Linked DNA regions of Homo sapiens: all the other regions are linked to region 3. The links come from fine-mapping of genetic effects on gene expression. A gene starts in region 3. Each other region holds a variant in brackets. All regions are shown on one strand. Distances are between the middles of the regions. Region 1 has its middle 21 kb from the start of SSPN. Region 2 holds the start of LOC105369704 (a long non-coding RNA gene). Region 3 holds the start of BHLHE41 (basic helix-loop-helix family member e41).

Evidence for each region. PIP is the estimated chance that this variant, and not a neighbour inherited with it, causes the effect.
Region 1: its variant is the best candidate, but not a certain one, in a credible set for the expression of BHLHE41 in testis (GTEx, PIP 0.51).
Region 2: its variant is the best candidate, but not a certain one, in a credible set for the expression of BHLHE41 in thyroid (GTEx, PIP 0.62).

The regions. Positions count from the first base shown.
Region 1 is chr12:26,173,069-26,175,831 of GRCh38, forward strand. It overlaps a transcript of SSPN not described here. Among named protein-coding and RNA genes, the nearest start is that of SSPN, 21 kb to the right of the region's middle. The variant G/A (reference allele first, on the strand shown) is at 1,294.
Region 2 is chr12:26,274,435-26,277,197 of GRCh38, forward strand. The region is part of intron 1 of LOC105369705 (a long non-coding RNA gene); the gene reads left to right. LOC105369704 (a long non-coding RNA gene) reads right to left here and starts at 1,621. Exons shown (of 2, transcript NR_188068.1): 1 at 1,425-1,621. RefSeq lists enhancers at 294-733, 754-803. The variant T/C (reference allele first, on the strand shown) is at 1,310.
Region 3 is chr12:26,123,636-26,126,398 of GRCh38, forward strand. It overlaps BHLHE41 (basic helix-loop-helix family member e41), which reads right to left and starts at 1,402. Exons shown (of 5, transcript NM_030762.3): 1 at 1,083-1,402; 2 at 884-947; 3 at 437-544; 4 at 1-106. The coding sequence starts at 1,144. It also overlaps a transcript of SSPN not described here.

The sequences.
Region 1 (2,763 bases), 49 kb after region 3:
TGATTTGATTTATACATTTCGTGACCCTTCACTGCCTATTTGTACTTAGACACAGGGACAGGATATAATGGCTGACGGGCTTCTGGGTGATTTCCAACTTCCAGAACTGGGAAACTTTACTCTGGGGTGTGAACTGCCATTCTAGGAGTGTCTGTGTGTTTCCTTTCTTTAGAAAAGAGCGTGGGGACAAATGTCAGGGTGGCCTGTAAGGGTGTCGTTCTGCATTTAAGAGTGGAAGTAGTGGTGGTGGGTGCAACTGTTCTCTAAATAGATCTCTAATGAAGTCCCCAGGTTTCAGGTCCACCTTTGAACTTTGCCCTCTGTAACTACAGATTCAGCCACTCCTGGGAACCCTGGTGCATCCCTACTCTGGAGCCTTTCTTTTTGGGGATATCCAGGGCCTCTTCTGCTATCATGCTCTTTTTCTTTTTCCATTGTCCAGATATTTGCTGATCTCTTTCATATGCTGATATCTTCTTTGCTTTCTCCTTACTCTTATAGGTTTCTTCTTTTTTCTCTTCCTGTTTTACTACTTTATGACCATTTCTATAGGGTTTCAGGAAGGAAGGTAGGCAAATACATATGTTCAATCATCGTCTTTTATAAGAAGCCTGTGGTATTTCTCTTAGAAAGCTATTTTAATCATTGATTGACAAGCCATTGTATCTTCAAATTTTATATTTCAAGGAATTTGGAAAGTAAATCTCTATGCATTAAAATATATTGCCCTTACCATTTTTCTTATTTCGTTTATTACGTCAACTGTGGCTTACGTGGATGATTAAACTTAAATAGTGTCTTCAAGGATGAATGAAGCAATGAAGATTTATTTAAACAATACCATAAAACTACTAGACAAGGAAAAATTCATTTGCAGCCATCTCCAAAACTCAAAGAAATATGTGATACATGAGATTTCTATATTAAGTTTATAAATTTTTTAAGTGAACCATCCTATGACATGGAAGGCAAGCTTGCCTGGCTAAAAGCATCCCAGGGAGGAAATGGCCAGGGTTTCGTCAGTCACCAAGAAGATAAATACACCCTGCTTAAACCCAGTAAAGGTGAAAAATAAATCAGGAAACTTCTTTGCGGTAGCCATGAGAAATGTTAGGCATTATTTGAAGGTCAAACTCACACTTTCAAGGCATCATCACTAACTTATACAAGCCTGATCTCTAAAGACTATCTTGGTTAAATATTGATCATGCTTCAAGCTCCACTTAAACTGCAAATACTGACCACATCTACCTATTTTTCTCATTATCAGCTTTATTGAAGTATGATTGTCAT[G/A]TAATACACTGCACATATTTAAAGTGTAAAGTTTGGTAAGTTTTCCCATCACCTTCTAAAATTTTCTTGTGTCCCTTAGTAATCCCTACCTCCTTCCCCATCCTGCTACCCACGCTTCCTTCCTTCCTTCCTTCCTTCCTTCCCTTCCTTCCTTCCTTCCTTCCTTCCTTTCTTTTTTTGACAGAATCTCACTCTATTGCCCATGCTGGAGTGCAGTGACAAAATCCCAGCTCGCTGCAACCTCCGCCTCCCAGGTTCAACTGATTCTCCTGCCTCAGCCTCCCAAGTAGCTAGGACTACAGGTGCATGCCACCACACCCGGCTCATTTTTGTATTTTTAGTAGAGACGGGGTTTCACCATGTTGGCCAGGCTGGTTTCGAACTCCTGATCTCAGGTGGTCCACCCACCTCGACCTCCCAAAGTGCTGGGATTACAGGCGTGAGCCACCGTGCCCGGCCTCCCCCTACCATTTCTAGAAACCATTGATCTACTTTCTGCCTCTATAGATTAGTTTGCGTTTTCTAGGATTTTATACAAATGGAATCACTAGATGTATTTTTTTGTTTGTTTTTGGTCTGGCTTTTTTCCCTCAGAATGATTATTTTGCAATCCAGCCATGGGTTTGTTTCCATGTTAGGGATATTACAAATAAAGTTGCTATGAACATTTGCCTACAAATCTTCATTTGTGGGTGTAGGCTTTTACTTATCCTGGGCGAGGTCATATGATAGACGTCTTTAACTTTTTAAGAAATTACCAAACTCTTTTCCGAAGTGGGTGTAGCATTTTGTATGCCTACTAGCAGCGTGTGACAACTGCAGTTTCTCTACATCCTCACCAACACTTGAAATGCCCAGTCTTTTCAATTTTAGCTATTCCCATACCTATGAAGTGACACCTCGTTGTGATTTAATTTGCATTTTCCTAATGACCAATGATACTGAACATTTTCTCAGGTGCTTATTTGCCATGTATCTTCTCTTGTGAAGTGTCTGTCCAAATCTTTTCCATTTTTTATTGGATTATTTGTGTTTTGATTACTGAGTTGGAGAGTTCTTTATATATTCTGGATACAAGTTCTTTATCAATATGTGATTTGTAAATATTTTCTCCCAGTCTATAGATCACCATTTCATTCTCTTGCCAGGTAGCTAATTTTATTTTTTTGTGATTTTTATGGGAATTTTTATGTTTTAAACAATGATAATAGTCATATTTATAATTAGCATATTCAGGAATCTATTTGTTTTAAAGAGCTATACAGAAAAGCTGAGGTGATGCCAAAATTTTAGCTCAATAAACCAACATTTGAAAAAAGCAGTTCACTTCAACTGTGAGATATGAATCTATAATGGGAAATACAATTCTATGGAATTCACAGAGCTTACTTGTTAAAAATAAAAAAAATTACAAAAACTGTAATTCTAATGGGCTTAAAAAGCAAATTCAATTCCGAGTATAAAAAATTT
Region 2 (2,763 bases), 150 kb after region 3:
TTCCTGGGTGGTCCTTCTTGGGTGGGTCCCTGGGCACAGAAACCCCAGGCCACGTTTCCTCCTCTGCTCAGCACGCTGGGCAGATTCTGCCTCCCGCAGCTCAGCTCTGGCTCATCAGGAGATAAGATCAGAGACACTACGGAAGGGCCAGGTTTTAACAAGGCAGAAAATACAAGCTATTCCAAACATGAGGCCTACTGTGCAAAAAACAAACCCCCTGGCTTTGGGGGCCCTCTCCTGGAGAGGGTTTCTCTGCTCATAAAGATTGGTATCAAGGGGTGAGGAGGGAGTCATGCCATCCCAGCAGGACCTCCAGTTGAGGGCTTCACTTTCAATTACCCAAGAGCAGCTGTAGACTGCTGCTTATGTAATGGGCTCTGCGCCTCCTTCTCGGGAGGAGGATGTGGAACCGTTTTGTGTTTGCTGAATAATGAGTCATGGTCAGAGTTAGGGAGCAGAAACAGTGACTCTCTCCCCTGCATTGCTTCATCCGGAACTTCTAGTAAAGAATGATAAGCCCTGAGTCAGTGCCCAGTGGGGCCTGCCCTGGAAGGGGAAGCACCACAGGAGGCTCTGAAATGCAGGCCCCACAGAGCCCACGCACCAGGCTGAAGGAGACTCTGGGGGCATTTGAAGCCCAGATGGGCTGCTTGCAAGAAGATTCACTGTTTATTTAGGCCTGTAGCTGAGCTGCCAGGGTTTTCCTATCTCGGGTAATCACAGCTCCTCCAGCCAGGATCCAGGAGTGTTGGGGTGAAGACTGAGGCTTCAAAATGAACAGAGCTTTCTCCAAACCTCATTTTAGCTCTAAGAAATGAAACAAGTCAGCCGTACACGGTGGCCCTGCTGTAATCCCAGCATTTTGGGAGGCTGAGGCGGGCGGATCACGAGGTCAGGAGTTTGAGACCAGACTGGCCAACATGGTGAAACACCATCTCTACTAAAGATACAAAAAAATTAGCCAGGCATGGTGGCGAGCGCCTATAATCCCAGCTACTCCGTAGGCTGAGGCAGGAGAATCACTTGAACCCAGGAGGCGGAGGTTGCAGTGAGTCAAGATTGCGCCATTGCACTCCAGCCTGGGTGACAGGGTGAGACTCCATCTTAAAAAAAAAAAAAAAGAAAGAACAAGTCTGAGGGGCGGGAGAAAGGGCACGTTTATATCAACTGAGAAGTCAAAAGGTTTGGTTTTAGCCAGAAAGGGAAAAAAAAGACACATTATTGCTCACATTCTGAGGTCAAACAAACAAACAAAACCCCTGAGAAAACAATATGAAGCCCTGTAAGAAAAGGCTTAATGGACCAGAAA[T/C]TATTTGTTCCTCTTCATGTTTCTGAGAAATGTGGTTCAAACTTTATAGACTTTCCACATCAGCAAACAATTAATCATGGCTTGCACTCCCACCCCACCATGCTTTTCAACATACCTAGCAAGAAGCCACAGGCCATTTCTTGTCTTTCTGTAGCAAATCACAGACCAGATCTGGGTGCATAAGCGAGGTTTCCTATGGAGTTGGTGGGTTATTCTATGGTGGGTGCTGCAGGAAGTTCAGGGCAGCTTGCCTAATGCACAAGGAAGGGAACATTTCCTTCCCTGTGCAAGGCTTCAGGAGACTGACCCCTGCCTATGACAGCATAACACAAAGCTCAAGGTCAAACTGCCTGGGTTTGAATCCCAGCTCTGCTACGGGCCACCAGCTATGTGAGTCTGGCACACAACTGATTTCTCTGCTTGGATCCCTCATCTGTAAAATGAAGGCAACAAAAGCTGCTACCTCGTAGGGTGGTTGTGAAGACTAAAGTAAAACTTGTAAAGCATTTTGAGTGTTTTTCTTTTTCTCCATCATTATCTTTTAAGGTTAGCCTAATGTTCATCTCTAGTGACTTCTATCTAAAAATTTGTTAGTGAGACAGAATAGCATAAACAGGTCTTATGGCCAAGCAGATATGGCCTTTTTACAACTAGTAAAATTTTTCTTTAGAATTTTCATTTGCAAAATGGAGAAAATATAAATTTATAGTAAGGATTCGATAAAGTATATAAAGTCGTTTAGCTTAGAAAGTGCTCAATAAGCGGTACTTTGGTTATAATTCTCAATAGACCTGAATCTCTGCTCAAATAAGTTCCGTATTTCATTATCCCATGTAGCAAGATGAAATCCCAACACCCAGATCACAGACATCCCTTTAGAGTATTTCTACACATATTTATAATATAAAATTTCAGAGAGGAAGGACATTCATAAAATTCTAATTTAAAACAAAATCCTTAAGGCATCTAATTCTTAAGGCAAAACATTTTGTTGTTTGGTTGAGAAAAGGAAGGAGGAAAGATGAGGCAATTCTTTAGATTCTTTAAAGAAGGGCTCTTTCAGCTTGAGTTATATTGATTGACTTCCTGGCTTGAATCACTTCATGGTATTTTGTTCAACTCAGCTGACCATAGGAAGCAGATGACATACCTCCTCTGAGACTGGCTCTTTAGCACCAGATGGACAAGATAAGTGCTATAAGATGAGGGGCAGCCACATGGCTGACATCGTCATCGTCATCATCATCATCATCATCATCATATCATCCCATGTAGTGTCCACATGTAGGGAGGAGCACTTCTTGTGTGTTGAGCACAGCACTAAAGGACTTTACATATTAACTCAGTTTTATCCTTACAACAACCTTGTTGGCTTAATATTATTATCTCTATCTTTTTTATTTTTATTTATTTATTTATCTATTTAGAGACAGGGTCTCATTCTGTCACCCAGG
Region 3 (2,763 bases):
GTAAAGCAATTATCTTCTGATGCTGTTGCTCGGTTAAGGCGGTTAAAGCTTTTAAGTGTTTCAAAGTTAATTCCAAGACTACAGCTTTCTCCAGATGTCCCAGAGTCTGCAGTGGTGCAAAAAAGAAACGGGCACTTGGTTACTTAAAAACACACATTTGGCTTAATTGGCTGTCCATTCAGCACAGCAATTTAAGCAAACACTTTGAAAGAAGTACTGTTCTTTTACTTCTTGAGCTTTCCACAAGACAGGTTATAAATGATTTCTTGCCTTCAGCTGGGAGCACCTACTCCAGTTTGCGGGAAACTCTGTACGGTATAGCACAAGTTTTAAGTCAGGAACTTATATTTACATTTATTCTTATATTTTCTGGGAGTCGCACCAGACTATTAACACGCCCTTGGAGAGCAGCAAAGAATGAAAATGTGCATCTTACTGTCAATTTCAGATGTTCAGGCAGTAAATCTTTCAGCTGAGCAATGCATTCATTAATTCGGTCTCTTCTTTTCTTTTCTATTAATCTGTGCGGTAATTTGTAGGTATCCTTAATATATGAGAGTCATGGAAAAGAGAAAACAGTAAGCGAAACATTCACTTATTGGATATTACCCTCGTCTGCCCCCCCCGCCCCCCCACCATAAAACATACTATGTGATAAACTACACCCAAGAAACCTCTTTCCTCTGGACTGTTCTGCAATGCAATTTAAATTCAGGTATGATGTTTAATATCCCCCTGAGAGTACCCAGCAAGCCACTTAAAATTCACAGTTGGGGAAGCTCAGGGGCTGGAATATATTTGCGGGCAGAGCTTCACTGTGAAATCAATGGCTCTAATTAACTACCCATGCAGGTTATGAGGAATATCGGGAACTTACACTTACCTTGGTGTCGTCTCGTTTCATGCTCCTTTTGGGTTTACACATATACAAAGAGGAATAGTCCAGTCTGCAAAACAGAAATCAGCATCAGGCACCCATTCGGGGAGGGGCTCTGCCCTCGCCAGCTCCATACCACTTTCTGGAGAAGAAAAAAATCAAACCAAAGCCTAGACAGATATTCGCAAGGGTGCGTGCACCTTACCCTATAAAATCTCTATGTTCCAGTAACTGTCTCTCTTGCAAATGAGGAATTCCTTCGTCCATGTTCAACTGCTGTTCGTTTCCTCTGTTTCGATTTTTGGGGCTCTGTACAATAATCTGTGGGACGGTAGGCTTGGGAGACCTTGGGGGGATCTGTGCGTCTCCAGTCTCTCTCTCGCTCTCCCTCTTCAGTGCAGTGTTGAAAGTGTGAAGCAGTTGGTCCCCCCCCTCCACCGCGCTCGCACACACACACGCACACACACGCACACTCGCGCCGGCCCCACTGCGCTGGTAGTTTGCTCTCACTCCAGGCAGTGTTTGGCCACAGGGCACGCGCGTCGCCGGCCAGACCAGCACCCAGCTCACGTGCGGAACGTACCATCCGCGGTCCAGCCCGGAGGGGGGCGGGGGAGGAGGGGCCGGGCCGGGCGGGGGCGTCGGGAGAAGGCGGCGAGAGAAGGCGAACGGCAGGAGGGGGCGGGGACACCTGATCAGGGCCACCGGAAAGGAAAAACAACTTCGGCCAAGCTATTCATCTTCCCAAAGGCGATGCAGTCGGCAGGAGGAGGGGGGAGTGGGGGTGCAGGGGTGCGGGGCAGCCTGAGCTTCCTTGGCTCCAAAATGCGACTCCCTGGGTTCGTCCGTTGTTACGGTGCAGGAATGTGAACGTGGCTTTTTGCTTTTCCACCGATTGTGCTGTTGGTTTGAACCATAGAAAGGAAGTGAAAAGAGAATTCGCGGTGGGTAAACTTGAGTCCCAAAGGAAATTTTGGAGACTTGTTTGCTCACTGATCAGTGGCCTGGAGGGACTCCTTGGCGCTGGGTGGAGAGGTTGCCTCGAGAAGAAGCAACTTGCAATCCGCTCCTTGAAGGATTTAAGATACATGAAAACGTTGTCACTGGGTCCGAATGTCGCAATCCAAGTGTCTTTCGGTGACACGGCGTCCCTGGGCCAACTAAACTTCCCCGCAGCAGCCGGAATTGCGGTGCCACTAATCACAGCAGCAGATGACGACGTTTGGGGCCGCGTGTGCTCCTGGAGGAACGCGGCGGGGAGCGAGCCGGGGTTGAGTGGGGGCTGGGAAGGGAGAAGGGGGTGGCACGAGAGGGGGTGGCACGAGAGGGGCTACCACAGAAAAGCTATGCAGCATTTATCACCCGCCCGCTCAACTCTGCCGCGTTCTGAGCCTCCGGTGACGCTACGTGCTTTCCCCATCCCCCCGCCCCCCCGCGCGATAAGAGACGCCCGGAGTGTGCAGAGCCCACGTTTACTACCGCTGGCACCTCCAAAGCCTCCCTCCTTAATCCGGTCTCAAACGGGTACCAGCACAGGGCCAGCAACGTGATCCGACCTGCCGCTGCTGCCACATCACTGCTCGGGGAACCCGTGCGCGCGCGCGCTCGCCCTGCAGCCGCGGCGCTCGGCGCCGGGAATCACAGGCCAGCAAGAGCCGGGTTACCTTTCCCCAGAGCCACCCTGGGAGCATGACTCACTGCTAGTGAGAGTTACCGGGAGGTGCCCGGGGATGCGCACTGCCCACGCCGCCCTGCCAGCCCAGGGGAAGGCATGTCCTGAGGGACTCCCAGGGGTGGGATGGAGGCTATATATATATTTCTCTAGATATACATAAAGACATAGAGAAAAAAACCAAGGTTTTTCCTGCACAGAGAGGGATATTTAC